4 separate regions of the Homo sapiens genome follow, and all the other regions are reported to be linked to region 1. The links are microRNA targets in miRTarBase. Many come from high-throughput screens and were not tested one by one. Region 1 holds a microRNA gene; each other region holds the end of a gene's coding sequence.

The links. Region 1 holds the annotated microRNA hsa-miR-29b-1-5p (GCUGGUUUCAUAUGGUGGUUUAGA, at 3,201-3,224, shown strand). A microRNA usually pairs through its seed, bases 2 to 8, with sites in the 3' UTR of a target mRNA and lowers its output. Matches are read on the target gene's strand: a 7mer-m8 pairs with bases 2 to 8, a 7mer-A1 pairs with bases 2 to 7 and ends in A, and an 8mer does both.
Region 2: miRTarBase lists PNKD as a target of hsa-miR-29b-1-5p. The part of its 3' UTR that is shown has no 7-base or 8-base seed match.
Region 3: the mRNA of GTF3C3 is a reported target of hsa-miR-29b-1-5p. Seed matches in the 3' UTR shown: 7mer-m8 at 1,691-1,697.
Region 4: the mRNA of SYNRG is a reported target of hsa-miR-29b-1-5p. Seed matches in the 3' UTR shown: 7mer-A1 at 432-438.

The regions. Positions count from the first base shown.
Region 1 is chr7:130,876,183-130,880,730 of GRCh38, reverse strand. MIR29B1 (microRNA 29b-1) reads left to right here and starts at 3,192; the gene lies at 3,192-3,272. It overlaps MIR29A (microRNA 29a), which reads left to right and starts at 3,921; the gene lies at 3,921-3,984. It also overlaps a transcript of LINC-PINT not described here.
Region 2 is chr2:218,344,348-218,348,895 of GRCh38, forward strand. It overlaps PNKD (PNKD metallo-beta-lactamase domain containing), which reads left to right. Exons shown (of 10, transcript NM_015488.5): 9 at 108-223; 10 at 461-2,446. The coding sequence ends at 634. All of the region lies in intron 2 of CATIP-AS2 (CATIP antisense RNA 2), which reads right to left. Among named protein-coding and RNA genes, the nearest start is that of MIR6810, 4.7 kb to the left of the region's middle.
Region 3 is chr2:196,760,395-196,764,931 of GRCh38, reverse strand. GTF3C3 (general transcription factor IIIC subunit 3) reads left to right here. Exons shown (of 18, transcript NM_012086.5): 18 at 247-1,897. The coding sequence ends at 369. Among named protein-coding and RNA genes, the nearest start is that of GTF3C3, 37 kb to the left of the region's middle.
Region 4 is chr17:37,515,119-37,519,666 of GRCh38, forward strand. It overlaps SYNRG (synergin gamma), which reads right to left. Exons shown (of 22, transcript NM_007247.6): 22 at 1-3,953. The coding sequence ends at 3,822. Among named protein-coding and RNA genes, the nearest start is that of DUSP14, 28 kb to the left of the region's middle.

The DNA of each region.
Region 1 (4,548 bases):
GTGGTCACTACTTGCCAACTCAGTACCCCACTTTCTCCCCAAGGACATAAAAGCAATGTGGGAAGATATACCAAATGACCTTGTCACACTGGGCTAATATGAAGAGCCCACAGATGCAAAATAATGTATCATACCTTTATTCTTCTGATTTTTTTTTTTTTTTTTTTTTTCGGAGACAGTCTCACTCTTTTGCCCAGGCTGGAATCCAGTGGCGCGATCTTGGCTCACTGCAACCTCTGCCACCCGGGTTCAGGCAATTCTCCTGCCTCAGCCTCCCGCCCAGCTAATTTTTGTATTATTAATTAGTAGAGAGAGGGTTTCACCTTCTTGGCCAGGCTAGTCTTGAACTCCTGACCTCGTGATACACCTGCCTTGGCCTCCCAAAGTGCTGGGATTACAGGCGTGAGCCACCGTGCCTGGCCTTTTTTTTTTTTTTTTTTTTTTTTTTTTGAGATGGAGTCTGGCTGTATTGCCCAGGCTGGAGTGCAGTGGCATGATCTTGGCTCACTGCAACCTCTGCCTCCCAGGTTCAAGTGATTCTCCTGCCTCAGCCTCCTGAGTAGCTGGGATTGCAGGCATCCCATACCCGGCTAATTTTTTTGAAACAGAGGCTTGCTCTGTCACCCAGGCTGGAGTGCAATGGCACGATCTCAGCTCAGTGCAACCTCCGCCTACTGGGCTCAAGCAACTCTCCTGCCTCGGCCTCAGCCTCACTACAGGCATGTGCCACCACGCCTGGCTAGTTTGGTTTTTTTTTTTTGTATTTTTTTAGTAGATATGGGGTTTCACCATGTTGGCCAGGTTGGTCTCAAACTTCTGACCTCAAGTGATCTGCCTGCCTCAGCCTCCCAAAATGCTGGGATTACAGGTATGAGCCACCACGCTTAGCCTTCTGCTGAATTTTTGAGAAGCATACATAAAGACAATGTAAAAAACTTAGCATATTTGTTTGGCCCTGCTAAGGGCATGGTTGAATATATAGTGTGTGTGATGTATTTGGTGTATGAGATATATATGATCTTATCAGACATAAGTAAAAGAAATTCATTCTTCAGGAAAAATTTTCCCCATAACTGAAGTGTCAATCATTTGAAAAAACTTCTAGGCAGTAGGCAAACACTGTGACTAGTTATTTATCAAAAATAAGCAGACTTTAGAGTTTTGTAACTGATGAGAATAATCTGGCTGCTTCTTTTGTACTTCAGTCACTGATACTGCGAATTAGAGTAGCATATACAGAAGGATGCAGGGGGTCCCTAAAGGAATCACAGAATTAGTGAAACCATTATTTGAGAGTTGCAGTGATTCTTCTGTCCTGGCACTTTTCCCAGTTTTGGTGCTTAAATTTACTATCCACTTGAAATGTGTCACTGCCTGTCACTTCACAAAGTATGTGCCTTTCACTGCAGTCAACAAGCTGTTTACATCTTTGATGAAATGATTGCCACGCATCTCCATAGCCCTGGTGTTCTATTCCCTTATTCACAGAGATTTTTTTTAAAAACCAGCCTAGCAGCAATAGGTATGTGCTGTGGATGCTTCTCCATGATGATAAAGGATGAGTTTGTGCTGGGATCTCCTTATGAAAAGATAACTGGCCAAGCCCATGAGGAACAAGAATGTTATGCTAATCAGACCCAAGGTAAACAGCCTGCAGTGCACCTCCTGACTGATTAGCACTGAACCCACTTGGAATCATCAACCACAGGCACGTGGTAATTGGATGTTCTTCTAATACACATAGTGAGATTGTAAAATGAGGATGATATATGAGGAAAGTCAGACGGAGAAACTAAAGTTCAGTTCTTAAATACAAGCCAAGGGAACAGACTAAGTGAATGGTACAGCCAGGATTGGAGCCTGGTTTTCACAAGGTGGTATGTCATGATAAAACAAGCCAAAGAAAAGGTTGGGTAGTGTTTTGAGGCTAAAAGAGACCAAAGAGTCTTAGTGAATCAACCTTGATGCGATCTGGGTTTGAAAAACCTATAAAAAACCTTTTGTTTGGAGAAAGTGGGAGAAGTTGGATGTAGGCTGGATATTTGTGGGTACCAAGGAATTGTTTGTTTTCTTAGGTATGGTAAGATTTTGTGGTTATGTAGAAGAGTGTCTTCATTTTATAGAACGACCTCAAAGTAGTTAGGAGCAGTGTATGTATGGGTGGTTATCAATTTACTTTCAAACAATGCAGCAAAAAATATGTATCTATATTACATATAATTAAAGCAAAACATGATAAAAAGGAATAGTTATTGAATTTAGATAGTATGGATTTAGGAATTCATTGTATTGTCATTCCAATTTAATGTATAAAATTTTTTATAACAGTTTATAAAAACAGTGCACACCCCTTTAATTAGGTGGCCTGGGTACATGAAGTATCTTTTTGGATGCCTAGAACACAAAAAGGGACGACAACAGGCCACCTAATAAGATGATACCAAGAACTATACCATGACGGCGAAAAAGAACTGCTGCAAAAAATAATTTGCCAAGGAGAACTCAGAGTACAAAGCCTTACCTTTGGAGTAGAGGGAAGGAGAGTCTTAAGTAAAGCTCACAAAAACCCCTAACTCATAGATGCAGTCTAAGGAATTCATTCCGGAAGCGACATTAGCATCTCATTAGTGCCATTATGTGACTTACTTGGCCTCTGAGCTAGTCTATTTTCTTCCCTAGACCCCAAAATCTCAGTAATCCTTTGGATCCAAGTTATCTCCAAGTGAAAATAATAGGTTTAGGAAAGCGTTTTTCTTCAACTTCTATGGAGCACTTGCTTGCTTTGTCCTATTTGCATGTCCGACGGACGGTTCTCCAGCACCACTGCTAGTCGTCCTCCGCCTGCCTGGGTACTTGATCACAGGATGCCTCTGACTTCTCCTGCCTTTACCCAAGCAAAGGATTTTCCTTGTCTTCCCACCCAAGAGTGACGGGGCTGACATGTGCCCTTGCCTCTAAATGATGAAGCTGAACCTTTGTCTGGGCAACTTAACTTAAGAATAAGGGAGTCCCAGGCATGCTCTCCCATCAATAACAAATTCAGTGACATCAGTTTATGAATATATGAAATTTGCCAAAGCTCTGTTTAGACCACTGAGTAACTCACAGCTAGGTTTCAACTTTTCCTTTCTAGGTTGTCTTGGGTTTATTGTAAGAGAGCATTATGAAGAAAAAAATAGATCATAAAGCTTCTTCAGGAAGCTGGTTTCATATGGTGGTTTAGATTTAAATAGTGATTGTCTAGCACCATTTGAAATCAGTGTTCTTGGGGGAGACCAGCTGCGCTGCACTACCAACAGCAAAAGAAGTGAATGGGACAGCTCTGAAGTATTTGAAAGCAACAGCAGGATGGCTGTGAGAACCTGCCTCACATGTAGCTGACCCCTTCCTCACCCCTGCCAACAGTGGTGGCATATATCACAAATGGCAGTCAGGTCTCTGCACTGGCGGATCCAACTGTGATCGAAAGTTTTCCAAAAATAAGTTGTGTCTGTATTGAACATGAACAGACTTTCTTCTTGTCATTATTCTCTAACAATACTGCATAACAATTATTTGCATACATTTGCATTGCATTAAGTATTCTAAGTAATCTAGAGACGATTTAAAGTATACGGGAGGATGTGTGTAGGTTGTATGCAAATACTACACCATTTTCTATCAGAGACTTGAGCATCTGTGGATTTTGGTATCCAAGGGGCTTTCTGGAACCAATCCCTCAAGGATACCAAGGGATGAATGTAATTGTACAGGATATCGCATTGTTGGAATTTTATACTTCTTTGTGGAATAAACCTATAGCACTTAATAGATAGTACAGACTCATTCCATTGTGCCTGGGTTAAAGAGCCCAATGTATGCTGGATTTAGTAAGATTTGGGCCCTCCCAACCCTCACGACCTTCTGTGACCCCTTAGAGGATGACTGATTTCTTTTGGTGTTCAGAGTCAATATAATTTTCTAGCACCATCTGAAATCGGTTATAATGATTGGGGAAGAGCACCATGATGCTGACTGCTGAGAGGAAATGTATTGGTGACCGTTGGGGCCATGGACAAGAACTAAGAAAACAAATGCAAAGCAATAATGCAAAGGTGATTTTTCTTCTTCCAGTTTCTAAGTTGAATTTCACTGACCTGAATTGCATGTGGTATAATACTAACAAATGGTTCACTATTAGCATATCATGAATGGTTATACTTTATAGAAATTCCATAGACTTGGTGGGGGTTTTGTTTTGGTGACGGATACCTAGAAACACTCCTGGGGAAAATCGATGACTGGCTTAGATGATGGGAAAGGAGCAGCGAGGGAGTCAATTCTGTTGTTGATGAGAAGCTGCACCAGCTATCTCTGAACTCTCCTCTCTTAGCTGGCTGAGGAGTTCCCTCCATGGTTAAACAGGTCATTTTCTTACATAAGGAAAAATGGTCCAGAGAAACTGGGTTTCTATGGCTGAGACAGAACTGTGCTAATATGTGTCAGTTCAGTTTAGAAGGCAAAGCAACAAAAGCAGGTGCTACTTGAACTAGGATCCTAGAGTATACC
Region 2 (4,548 bases), not on the chromosome of region 1:
CCTAGTTGTCAGGTGCCCATCAGCCTGGACCTGGGGCAGGGAAGACTGTTCTGACTGTACCACCAATCTCTCTCTGCTCTGTGTCTCACCCTCATGGCTGTCGGTAGGTCATGAGTATGCAGAGGAGAACCTGGGCTTTGCAGGTGTGGTGGAGCCCGAGAACCTGGCCCGGGAGAGGAAGATGCAGTGGGTGCAGCGGCAGCGGCTGGAGCGCAAGGGCACGGTGAGGGACTCGGGGTCCAGGAGGAGCTGTGTGGGCAGGCACTCAGCCCCAACGGGAACCCATCCATGCTGACCCCAGGCCTGCGAGCACCTCCCCAAAACTCTGACCTCTTTGGCCCATGGGCCCTCAAGTCAGAACTCCTGAACTCCAGGATGGGGCAGGGGTCGGGTCAGGCTTCTCTGTCTTGGGTCCATTTCCCAGCTTCTCTCCACCAAACCTGGTTCCTCTCACCCACAGTGCCCATCTACCCTGGGAGAGGAGCGCTCCTACAACCCGTTCCTGAGAACCCACTGCCTGGCGCTACAGGAGGCTCTGGGGCCGGGGCCGGGCCCCACTGGGGATGATGACTACTCCCGGGCCCAGCTCCTGGAAGAGCTCCGCCGGCTGAAGGATATGCACAAGAGCAAGTGATGCCCCCAGCGCCCCCAGCCCAGCCCACTCCCCGCATGGGGAGGCCGCCACCACCAACACCTCATCATCCTTCTCATCGCTAACACCACCACCTCCATCGGCACCCAAGCGGGCATCATCCCCCCACACTGCTCAGGGGAGGGGAGGGATCAGGCGATGAGACTGTGAGGCCAAAAGAAGGGGGCCTGTTGGAGGCTGGGAACCCCGCAGCGCGAGGCTGCCTCATCAACGGCAAGAGGAAAGGAGGGGTCTCGGGACATCTCCAGACCCTACCAACTGGGAGGGTCCCCTCCTCCTTCCCTACTCCTGGGACGGCAGCAAGGACATGGGGGCTGCTGTTAGCTTCTCCGTCAGGAGGCCTCATCTCACTGTAGCCCTGGAACCCAGGGTCCATCTTGCCCTTCCCCCATCCATGGTTGGGAAAGAAGCTCAGCCCCTCACAGTGGCCTCAAGTGTGATGCCTTACAAAAGCACCACTCAGATGGGCAGCTGGACTCTGGTGTCCTGAGACTCTGCCCTCTTCCCACAGCCTCCCTGCCCCACCCATCCCTGCAAAGCCATTTTTCAGACAGAGCCATTCCTAAGAACACTGAAGGGCTGGAATGCTGGCTGGCCACTCTCTGCCTCAGTGGCCTCCCTACAGCCTGGAAGAAGGAGGGTCCTGATTGCCAAGGAAACCTCCTCATTGGGCTAAGGAGACACTGGAGTCTGGAGTGTGGAGCCCCACAGTCTTGCAGGTCACATGCTCTCCTTGCACATCTGGCCTGGTTGTACCCACTGGCCTCTGCCTCTGCCCTGGGCCAAAAGGGCCCCTCCTTGCCAGGGGAGAGACAGCCACGGTCCTCTTTGGCCGATGCTGTATTCTCATTTTGGCCCTTGTTCTTAGGCCCGTCTGCCCGCCTTCCTCCATCTAACCTTTCCTGTTTTATCCGCAGCCCTTTTCTTCTTTGAGTTAGTAAAGATTTATTCTGTAACCTGACACTCATCTGGCCCTTTGCAGTTTGCCAGCCATATTCCCATGTGATTTCCCACTGGATCCAGGCCCCCATCCGGCTGGCAGGAGGGGGCTCTGACGTGCAGGTTGGAAATCAGAAGTCTGTGAGAGCGCGGGAGTGCATGGCAGCTCTGGGTCCCAGACCTGGCCCGACCCCTCTGCTTCACCTCCAGCTCTGCTGCTCCTCTACTCTTGGGTCGAGATCCCTTTGGAGCCACAGCGAGGAACCCTGTGGTCCTCAGGCAGGTGTACCTTGAGTCAGCCAGGAGCCCTCTTTTCCTGTGTCAAAGCCTGCCCTCGGGCTCTGCTCACCTCTGGTGACCCTCCAAGATGCCCCTGCCCTCAGTTTCCCCTCATGATCTGGCCTCTGCCCCCTTCTCTAGCCACAGCCTCTAGTACACTTTAGCAATACCACCAGACTAGTTAGAGTTCCCCACTCACCAAGCAAGACATGCAGTTTCATGCCTCTGTGCCTTCGCTCATGCTGTTTCTTCCGACTGGAATGCCTTCCCCTGCTCCTCCTGCCTTGTCTGCCTGGCAAGTTCATCTCTCACGATCCCCTCAAAGGCCCCCTCCTCCAGGAAGGCAACCCCTGTGCCCCTCCCCTCCAGGCTACCTCTGCACTTTGTCAATGCTTCTCTTGTGGCACTTATCACACTGTATTTTACTTGTTTACATGTTTGTCTCCCCTTCTAGACTGTGAATCCTTAAGGGCATGGACTGTATCTTATGCATCTCTGTATTTCTGCGCCTAGCACGGTGCCTAGCACACAGTAGGCGCTCAATAAATGTTGAATGAATGAATGATTTAATCAAGACTTGATCACCCAACAGCTTGTCTTTGTTGCTACATGAGTGAAAACAGCAGAGAACTTTCTCACAGTTTTCCCATCTCAGTTCCAGGCCTGCTAACTTGCAGTTAGGCACTTCAAGAGTTTTGATCAGAAATGATGCCCAAAGGCTGGGCGCAGTGGCTCACACCTATAATCCCAGCTCTTTAGGAGGCTGAGGCGGGTGGATCACAAGGTCAGGAGTTCGAGACCAGTCTGGCCAACATAGTGAAACCTCATCTGTACTACAAATACAAAAAATTAGCCAGACATAGTGGCAGGAGCCTATAATCCCAGCTACTCAGGAGGCTGAGGCAGGAGAATCACGTGAACCCAGGAGGCGGAGGTTGCAGTGAGCCGAGATCGCACCACTGCACTCCAGCCTGGGCGACAGAATGAGACTCTGTCTCAAAAAAAAAAAAAATTTTTTTAAAAAGAGAGAGAGAAATGATGCCTAAAATATGTTCTTCCCAAGGCCCATGGGCATTTGTTCAGGGTTTACGATTTGCTTATCTCAATGTTTCCCAAAGCTTGAGATACACAAGTGTACCACTGGCCAAAGTAGGGTGGCTGTACATGGCCACAGCACAGCAATCAATTGGACTTCAAGGACACGGTCTTGGCACTAGTCTGTCTTTAATGTCTTTGGAAAGAAAGACCCGGGATCCAGGTTCATACTTTAGTTGGGAAATGTCTGTAGTTAAGCTTTAACAACATCGTTTTGTTTTCATTATATTTATATTTGGGTTCAATATTTATTTTTGACAAGTGACACTGGTTTTCAGTTCATAAAAATGATTAAAGGGCCGGGCGTGGTGGCTCACGCCTGTAATCCCAGCACTTTGGGAGGCTGAGGCAGGCGGATCACGAGGTCAGGAGATCACGACCATCCTGGCCAACATGGTGAAACCCCGTCTCTACTAAAAATACAAAACTTAGCAAGGCATGATGGTGAGCGCCTGTAATCCCAGCTACCCAGGAGACTGAGGCACGAGAATCGCTGAACCCGGGAGGCAGAGGTTGAAGTAGGCCAAGATCGCACCACTGTACTCCAGCCTGGGCAACAGAGGGAGATTCTGTCCCAAAAAAAAAAAAGATGAAATTTGGGTGGGGACAAAAAGCCACACCATATCATTATAATAGAACAACTTATATTCCTTTGGGTATATAACCAGTAATGGGATTGCTGGGTCGAATGGTAGTTCTGTCTTTAGGTCTTTGAGGAAACACCACACTGTCTTCCACTTTGGTTGAACAAATTTACACTCCCGCCAACAGTGTATAAGCGTTCCTTTTACTCTACAACCTTTCCAGCGTCTGTTATTTTTTGACTTTTTAATAACAGCCATTCTGACTTGTGTGAGATGGTATCTCATTGTGGTTTTGATTTGCATTTCTCTAATGATGAGTGATGTTGAGCTTTTATTCATATGTTTGTTGTCCACATGTATGTCTTCTTTTATTTATTTATTTATTTATTTTTAATTGATCATTCTTGGGTGTTTCTCGCAGAGGGGGATTTGGCAGGGTTATAGGACAATAGTGGAGGGAAGGTCAGCAGATAAACAAGTGAACAAAGGTCTCTGGTTTTCCTAGGCAGAGGACCCTGCGGCCTTCCGCAGTGTTTGTGTCCCTGGGTACTTGAGATTAGGGAGTGGTGATGACTCTTAACGAGCATGCTGCCTTCGAGCATCTGTTTAACAAAGCACATCTTGCACCGCCCTTAATCCATTTAACCCTGAGTGGACACAGCACATGTTTCAGAGAGCACAGGGTTGGGGGTAAGGTCATAGATCAACAGCATCCCAAGGCAGAAGAATTTTTCTTAGTACGGAACAAAATGGAGTCTCCTATGTCTACTTCTTTCTACACAGACACAGCAACAATCTGATTTCTCTATCTTTTCCCCGCATTTCCCCCTTTTCTATTCCACAAAACCACCATCGTCATCATGGCCCGTTCTCAATGAGCTGTTGGGTACACCTCCCAGATGGGGTGGCCGCCAGGCAGAGGGGCTCCTCACTTCCCAGAAGGGGTGGCCGGGCAGAGGCGCCCCCCACCTCCCAACGGGGCGGCGGCCGGGCGGAGGC
Region 3 (4,537 bases), not on the chromosome of region 1:
ATCTGGCGTTTATTCTGCCGTAGCTTGTGGGTGAGACTTTAAATTACTGTTAAAATATTTGATGATGCTGTTAACTGAATCAGCATTGATCCAAGGTATATGCATAGTTTTATAATTTTTTTTTAGTACATGAGCTTTAATACCTTTTGAAAACTTACTTACACTTATAAAACTATTAATTTGCCATAAAATTGTCCCGGTTGACAGTTGGAAATATTAAACATAAAGGTATCTTTTTCTCCCTAGGGTATAGAACTTGACCAGTTAGACTTACGAAGAGATATTGCCTACAACTTGTCTCTCATCTATCAGAGCAGTGGGAATACCGGAATGGCTCAAACGCTTTTGTATACCTATTGTTCTATATAAAGCACCGCAACTGAGAACAGAGCAATGGCAGCTGCTGTGTGAGGACCAGTGTCTTCTGTCTCAGGGCTTATTATTTGTAACTCCAAAATAGAAATGACAATTTCAGAATTACCTAACAAACAGTGTATTTATTTTTAATATGTGATAATGATCTTGTGGTATATATGCAAAATTATTCCTACAAAAATTTGTATATTGGTCTGTCATTTTCCTTTCACATTCTATAGTGAATTGTTCCCAATGTTGAAATGGACGTGTAAGCCTTTGAGCTAGCTTGGAGTCGAATACACTATTTTTCACTCACACCATTTATTCATCTTTGTATTTAATACTATAGCTCTGTCAATATCACATGAGGCAGTTTTTCAAATACGTATAAACAGAGGTTGCTTATTATTAAAGGAAAGACAAAGTGGGACTCTTTATGATGTCATGACCATGATAACTAAGCACCTAAGAAAATTATTTAAAATAGTTATGTGGTAGGCAGAAAGACAAATAATTTAGTTTTTTACTTTTCACCAGCATGTATCTTAGCTACCTAAACTGAAACATGGGAGGCTGGGCTTAATTCAAAATATATTGCTCCAAGGCAAATAAAAAAATGCTTTATCTATATTTGTGGCTTTCTGATGAAAAAATAGAGAAGAGCTTGTTCAATAACAGGACATGGTTTCCATTTCAAGATCACAAGTAATATAAGACTGGGCAAGTAGTACGTATGGAATAAAGGACATACTGCTGATTGATAAAGTAAAAAACTTTTTTTTTGTTTGTTTACTCATCTCCACTATTTATTATATGTTCTTGAATTTAAGTTAACAGTACTTTTTAGATGATATACTGTTAGCTTAATAACAACTTTTTAGGGAAAAATAAATGCTGTAATTAATGTGCACATGGGTTAGTAACACCCAGCCCAATTGTGGGAGGGAAACAAGTAGAGGCTTAGGATCAAAGAAATAAAATTGGGACTTATTAGAAATTCTTACCACTGTTTCTACTGTACACAAAACTTTCTAGTTGAGCAGAATTTGTATGCAATAAGTAAATATATTGTATACTCCATGTGTATAATTTAAATGCATTTTATTTTTATAATTGAGGTTAACTGTTTCACATGCTTAATTTTTACTTTATGCCATTTATAGGTAATGGTAGAGGTAACTGAGATACAGTAATAAGTTAGACTTGTGTGTTGGAATTCTGTGGAACTGAGCATTCTGTGCTCCGAGTTTCTCTCTTAAATTAGCTCACTGGACTGTGGCTCCAGTGTCTACTAAATAGCCGTGGAGGAAATAAGTCTCCCTAAGGGAAAAAAAAACCAGCTGATATTGTATAGTTTTGTTTAGCTTTTAAAATCATAGCTTCCATTTGCTGAGTTTTTACTCTGCTACTGTATGCTAAGTATGGTGCTAAACACTTTGGATATGTTATCTCTGATTCTCTCAGGGAACTGCAAGGTAGTTATTATTGATATTGTCATCACCACTTTGTATCTAGAGATTAAATAGCATGTTCAAGATCACTAGTAAGCTGCTCCTTGCTCAGAGATTTTCCTTCAGAAGAACACAGTTGCTGTAGTTCAGAGTAACAACAAACATTAAGCATAAGGTTTGTTTTTTTTTTTTCTTTTGAGACGGAGTCTCACTCTGTCTCCAGGCTGGAGTCCAGTGGCATGATCTCTGCTCACTGCTACCTCCACCTCCCAGGTTCAAGCGATTCTCCTGCCTCAGCCTCCCGAGTAGCTGGGACTACAGGTGCCTGCCACCACCTCCAGCTAATTTTTGTATTTTTAGTAGAGACAGGGTTTCACCATGTTGGCCAAGATGGTCTCGATCTCTTGACCTCGTAATTCGCCCGCCTCGGCCTCCCAAAGTGCTGGGATTACAGGTGTGAGCCACTGCACCCAGCCAAGCATAAGTTTATTTTAGAAAGAAAAAAGACATTGGCAGTGTTTCTGTCTTCCAGGCCTTCAGCCCATCAAAGCCCCTGTATAAAAACATCTTTTGGGGTCTCTTTTTAAAAGCTCCTATTCTCTTACCTCCCATCCTCACCTTAGCAGTGGGGTCCTGGTACCTGTTTTATGCACTGAGACTCTGCTGCTCCTGCATGATCACAGTTGATCGAGGAGGGAGTCTGCTCCTGAACCAACCTGGGCCAATCAGGAGTTTCCTCCCGCCTTCCCTGGGAATTTCAGACTTGAAATAGTTCATGTAGGGCCAGAACTTCAGAACAATGAGGCCAACTAGCAGTTAACCCGTTCTGTTGAAAAAAAAAAAAAAAGTGAGGTGTCTGCATTAAGAGAAGTAAAGATGAGCGAAGGAGAGTTCTCTCTGAAGTCCCAGAGATTTCCAGTTTTCAGTTCTATCCTCAGGCCAGCTGCCTTCTTACCCTTGGATTCGTTCTAGGAGATAGCCTTGATTCTGTTATAGTTTCCACTTTAATATTTACACCAGCTTGGGTTTTTCTGTTAAATGCACATACAAAAAATTTTGACCTGATCGACCACCATTCCATCTTTCTTTTAATTTAGCATTACTGCTTTCTAGCCATTTTCATAGGAAGAAAGTATAAAGCAAACAGAAATGAATATAAAAATTTGTTGCTGAATTACAAGTAGTGTCACGAAGTCTAATCCACAATAAACAGGCTTTTCAAAATCATTCAGAGCAAGAACAGGAGGAATGTTCCTGCTGTGGTGTTGTAAAGCTAATAGTATTATAATACTATAGTTCATATTGAAAGAATATATACTCCAACATAATACTGAACAGGGTAGGAAAGGAGTTAATGGCCAAGATATTGGGTGAGGATATGAGTAAGGGGGGACTAGAAATGAACTGCATCTCCAGGCCCATAGTCCCTATACTAATGGCTATGCTATGAAACTGCAAATTAGAATTTTGAGGCATTCTCAGAAGAAAATGACCAAATGAACTGAATTTTTTAAGTGGGCAAAAGGTGGATTCTGGAAACCACTTGGGCATGTTAGTGCTGGCATGATTCCAGCCATCTGTGTGTTCTTTGAAGTGATGTTCCTTAGGATACTTACTCTTTTTTTCCAAGCAAAAAGGCCAGCTGCCTTCTCACCCTTGGATTCATTCTAGAATCCAGATAGATTCTTTGATTCTTTGATCAGGATATCCTTGATTCTATAATAACTTCCACTTCAATCTTTTAGGAGATACACTCTTTTTGCTTGGTACTAGACTGGTGGTTCTGAGGACTATCTTACATTTTATGTATCTGGGTTTTAGCAGAGTCTGTGAGGAAGACTGCTGTGATATGCTTATGGATTGAATGGGAAAGTGTGGCTGGTTCTTCAGCCGGTAGAATGACCGAACTCAAAGAATGCATGTTGACAGACTGATGTAGACTGGAGAGAAACTGCAAATGACATGCCACCATGTTCATTAACGACTTAGGTGACAATATAAGGCATGGTCAAATTTGCATGGAGGGAAACTAGAAGTTATAATAAATACCAATACTAATGAATTAATGAAAAATCTCAACAATGTTATTAAACTGAACTGGGGTCTGCTTGCCCAGCATGGTAAGGCCAAACATCCATACCAAGGTTTTCAGCAGGAGAAAGGGGGGCATTTATTTGTAGGCACCTTGAAGCAAGGAGAATTGGGCAGTTTATGCTTAGGACCTGACCTCTTCAATGGCTCATAAGGAAGGGTTTTTAAATGCAGGGGTACATTTTAAGCAAGAGTTATAGGCAAAATTGTAAATTAATACATGGAGGTTCTATAATACATTGGTTTGGCCTAAAAGGGTGGGATATCTTGAAGTGGGGGCTTATAGGTAACAGATTTAAAGATTTTTTTGATTTGTAATTGGTTAAGGAAGAGAAGCTTTATTTAAAATTTTGGGGTCATCAGAAAAGAATGTTGGCCCTGGCTCTTGGGTATGACTTCTTTTAGACCCTTCAGGAAGAAATTCAGAGCAAGGAGTGGCAGCATTTAATCTTCATTTCCCCCTTACTAGAGGTTTATGTGTCAGTGGATCCACTTGGTGGCGGGTCTGGTTTTTTGAAAAACAACTTAGGGACGTATGTTATAAGATGCTCTTTTTAGTTTTTATAGAGACCCAAACCATCCAGTGACTAATTTTTTTGGCTATTGTTTTAAGTTATTATCTTTTTGTTCATTATGTT
Region 4 (4,548 bases), not on the chromosome of region 1:
AATGGAATTAAGTAAAAACTTCATTATAATGCTATTTTGTTAGAAAAGTATTTGTAAAGTGGCATTTTTCCCCCAAGAGCTGTTTCACTTAAGCTTTATTTCCTCGGCCTGGCAAGGGGAGGGCTTTTCAGTATTGTTATTTGGTACACACTTACCTGAAGAAATAAGTAAGTAACTTAAACATAAAAAACATAGTCGACACACATCTTGCCCTGCATTCTGACATTTGCTGGAATGGTCTACAGCAGGCTACAATGCTCCCTTCTGAATGGCAAATGTCTGAAAATGTCAGTTTATTAACTGTTCACAAAGGCAGGCATTTGACCTTGAAGGTGTTAAAGGGAATTTTTTATTTTTGAGACAGAGTTTCGCTCTTGTTGCCCAGGCTGGAGTGCAGTGGCGCGATCTCGGCTCACTGCAACCTCCGCCTCTCTGGTTCAAGCAATTCTCCTGCCTCAGCCTCCCGAGTAGCTCGGATTACAGGCACCTGCCACCATGCCCAGCTAATTTTTGTATTTTTAGTAGAGACAGGGTCTCGCCATGTTGGCCAGGCTGGTCTTGAACTCCTGACCTCGGGTGATCCACCCGGCTCGGCCTCCCAAAGTGCTGGGGATTACAGGCGTGAGCCACCACGCCCGGCTAAAGGGAATTTTTGTAGTGGTCCCCAGTACAGGGCCAGCATTTCCTATTTCTGTAACATACAGCCCTATAATCTTTGCAAAGCTGAAGTACACTTGAAATAGGCAAACAGAAGACACCTTTAAACAAATAAGACCCCCCCAAAACCCTTCAAATATGTATATGTACACAAAATATTCAAATAATTAAAAATTCACAACCCCTATGGAATGCTAACTAGTAGCCACAGGAAAAATAAAGCATGGAAAATATCCTCATATATCCAGTACCTCTTCTATCTCAAGCATGTCCAGACAAAAATTAAATTACACACTAAGCCATAAAAATTTTAAAGGCAAAACATCCCACCAAAAAAAGAAAAGTGCTTATTAATGGCCATTCAAGCAGTGGGGTGAAGCGGGCTGACACAATGCACAGTATGGAAATAAGTAACCTTGGCTACAGTTTCCAAGGACACGGGGCTCCTGGCTGACAAGAAGAGCTGAGGTGAAGCTGAATGCAGCGTTGAGCCATTTTAATAAACGTTTATAAAGAAAAGCAGCGCAACCGTGTCCCACACTCCTTGGATCCCTATTGGTGGCATCTAATTAAACATTTCAAGTATTCAAGAGATATGAAAGGTAGTGAATACTTTTCATAGCAAAGGCTTTTTTTCTGTTGACATCTGCTGAATTTTCCTGTGGCACCTCCCAAGGAGTGACTAAGCCTACCATCCTTGGTAAGGAAAATGGGGATTATACTAAGGAATTTTATCTGAGGCATTCTGGAATTTCTCAGGAATAGAAACCAGCCCAGCTACCAAGTGAGCTTTTTAAAATGTTGATACTGGGCCACTGTGACATGACAGGCATCTATATAGCATTTCAAAAAAATGCTTCAGCAATACAAATTCAAACTGGGAAACTTTTTTTTTTTTTTTTTTAAGAGACAGTGTCTCGCTCTGTCATCACCTACGCTGTCACGTGCAGCCTCAAACTCCTGGACTTGTGATCTCCCGCCTCAGCTTACCTAGTAGCTGGGACCACGAATGTCCACAGATGCACTCCACCTACCCGGCTAATTATTTTTTGTATAATTAGCTGGGGTCTTTACCATCATGCCCAGGGCTGGTCTCTAACTCCTGGGAAACATTCTTATTGCAAAGGTAGATTCTGCTGTCATGGTTCTGTTATGAAATTTAGGCCAGGCGCAGTGGCTCACGCCTGTAATCCCGGTACTTTGGGAGGCTGAGGCGGGCGGATCGCCTGAGGTCCGGAGTTCAAGCCTGGCCAACATGGAGAAACCTTGCCTCTACTAAAAATACAAAATTAGCTGGGCGTGGTGGTGCACGCCTGTAATCCCAGCTACTCACGAGGCTGAGGCAGGAGAATCGCTTGAACCCGGGAGGCGGAGGTTGCACTGAGCTGAGATTGTGCCATTGCACTCAAGCCTGGGCAACAAGAGTGAAACTCCATCTCAAAAAAAAACAAAGAATTTTTAAGGCCAATTAGCAGCCTGCTTGCATTCCAGCTCCATGTGGAAGTGGTGCTGTCCAGGATGGAAGCGCCGAGGCCTCAGGAAAAGCCTGCCAAAAGCTGTCCCACTTGTGTTGTTAGAAACACCCCACTAGCCTTGTGGTGGGCAAAAGCTCCAAAGGTGCCCATTCAGAGTGAGCTGCCTCAGTCAGGAATGGCCAGAGACGGTATCATCGGGAGCGAGTGAGAAAAGCCTTTCTCTCCTCGGTGCCTCTCTGTGCATTCGGGCACGCAGAAGGTCAAGCAGAAGCCTCAGCAACAGCTGTTTAATGAAAATGTTCCACACCTTTCTTGGAGAACATGGAAAAGCTGTAAGATGGAGCAAGACAGAATTTGTCCTGAGAGGGGAAAATAAATTATGTAAAAGCAGCAATTATATAGACAAGACCAACTTTTTCAGTTTAAAAATAAAAGTCTAGGTCAGAGGGTCTAAACCACACAAAGTAAAGCACACGAGATTGAAAAATCTCTTCATAAAGCGCATAATCAACAATTCAGAGAGACGTGTGCCCTAGATTGGTAGTTCTTCCCAGGAATAACACAGCTCTTAGCCACTTGGGTTTTTCCCCTAATTTTATGCATTCACATTAAATGGCAAAGACAATTCCCTACTCCAGGAAGCATGAGCCTTTTCTATCTAAAATTCAGTACTGTTTCTGGACAATTTTCTTCTACTTCTTCTAAGTCATGTATCTATCCCATAAATATACATCTTGATACTTTACACTAGGCCGAGAGCTCCACATTTTCACCCTGAATTAATTTTCAGGTTTTTCTCACAGATACTGCAAAGTCAGGCAGTGTTGGTCCCTATGCAGTCATCTTTGGAAATTTGGAGAGAGGCCACTGCAAAGAGATTTCATTCCACTGCCTTTCCAAATCTTGTCTGAGAAAACTCCATGGTCACAGTCTTTGCATGCGGCAGAACAGGTTTGCAGCGAAGGCTCCCGGGGGGAAGGATATTATCCTAATACACAGGATTTGGGCCTCTGTCAAAATGAGCATTCTTCACGGCTGCAGAGTGCCCAGGCATGTTTTGGGAAAAAGTCTTGAGAGTGGACAGAAGTGAAGGGAAGGAGTAGAGAACTGGTTCAGTTGTGACAACCAAGTGGGTAAAATCTGCCCTCACCTGCCTGCTACTGTCCAGGGGAGATGGGCAGAATCTTCTCCATAAAAAGCAGAACATCAGTTTAATCGCAATTTCCTCTTTTTATTCATTTCAGACATTAACAAACTAAATGCAGATAAATGTATTCTACTTCACAGGACAGTAAGTGTCCTAGATAAAAACAAGCACTGGCTCCAAGCAGTCGCCCATTCTAGTCCCGCAACGGTAATCTATTTTTCTTCAAATGTCAGTTCTTCACAGTTTCAATACTGCAGCAGCAAGTTCTTCCTTAGATCAAGAAAGCCGTGGTCCGTATTTCAGAAAATCTTAAGTAGAGATAAGTGAGCAAGCTTCTGGTGCCACGTGCAGTTTGGGTGGGACAATTTTACCTGAAGTCCTGCAGACTGGCCGTGGGGATGACGGGGGCCCCGTCCCTTGCGGTGTTCTTCATATCGATTCAGGGAAGCGAACTGTGCAGTGCTCGCATTCTATTTATTGGTCCCTGTCACCCCGTGGGGTGTCACAGAAAAAAAAAAGTCAATGCTTCACAGAGGAGTTGTTCAGAGCAGGTCAGGCAGGACGAGGCCAGGAGGCTTTGGTTCGACACAGTTGATCCAGAAGTTGGCACAGCTGGCGTGATACTGGTGCCCTCCATAGGCCAGCTTGAAACTGTCTGTTTCTGAGTTGAATGCCTGCCAGAAATAAACAGAGATGTGGGGCAAGTCAGGCTTTTTCTGCATCTCAGAGCTTTTCAGCAACCAACATGTACATCTATCTCTCCAGGTCACAGAGGCTGAGGCCAAAATGGCACACACATAAAAGCTGAGCGGATAGCTACAGGAATTCAAGAGAGAAGGTTTTTTACTGCTAATTAAAGGTATAAAATTGTTACCACTAAACCTAGTTTCAGCAAAAGGTGGCCAAATCTTCCATGGAAAAGGCAGACAGAGGTTATGGGGTGGAGGGGGGGAATCATGATAAGGGGAACTGAAGTAGCCAAGGGCTGTGGATAGCTTTCATCCCTCACTGTGCTGAAGGAAGCCCTCCTCCTAAGGCCGGCATCTGACTACAGCATGCAATCCTTTACACTCCTGTAGCTGACCACAAGCCTATCATGACAAAAAATTACAAGAGAGTTAGAGAACGAGAGAGTTAGAAAACGAGAGAGTTAGAGAACGACAGATAACAACTCTTAGGGTCTAATGGCATTGACCCTAATGCCTAATGAATCTACATTATCAAAAAGTCCAAACAGGTATGGAGTTAAAAAAAAATGCCTCGAAATGA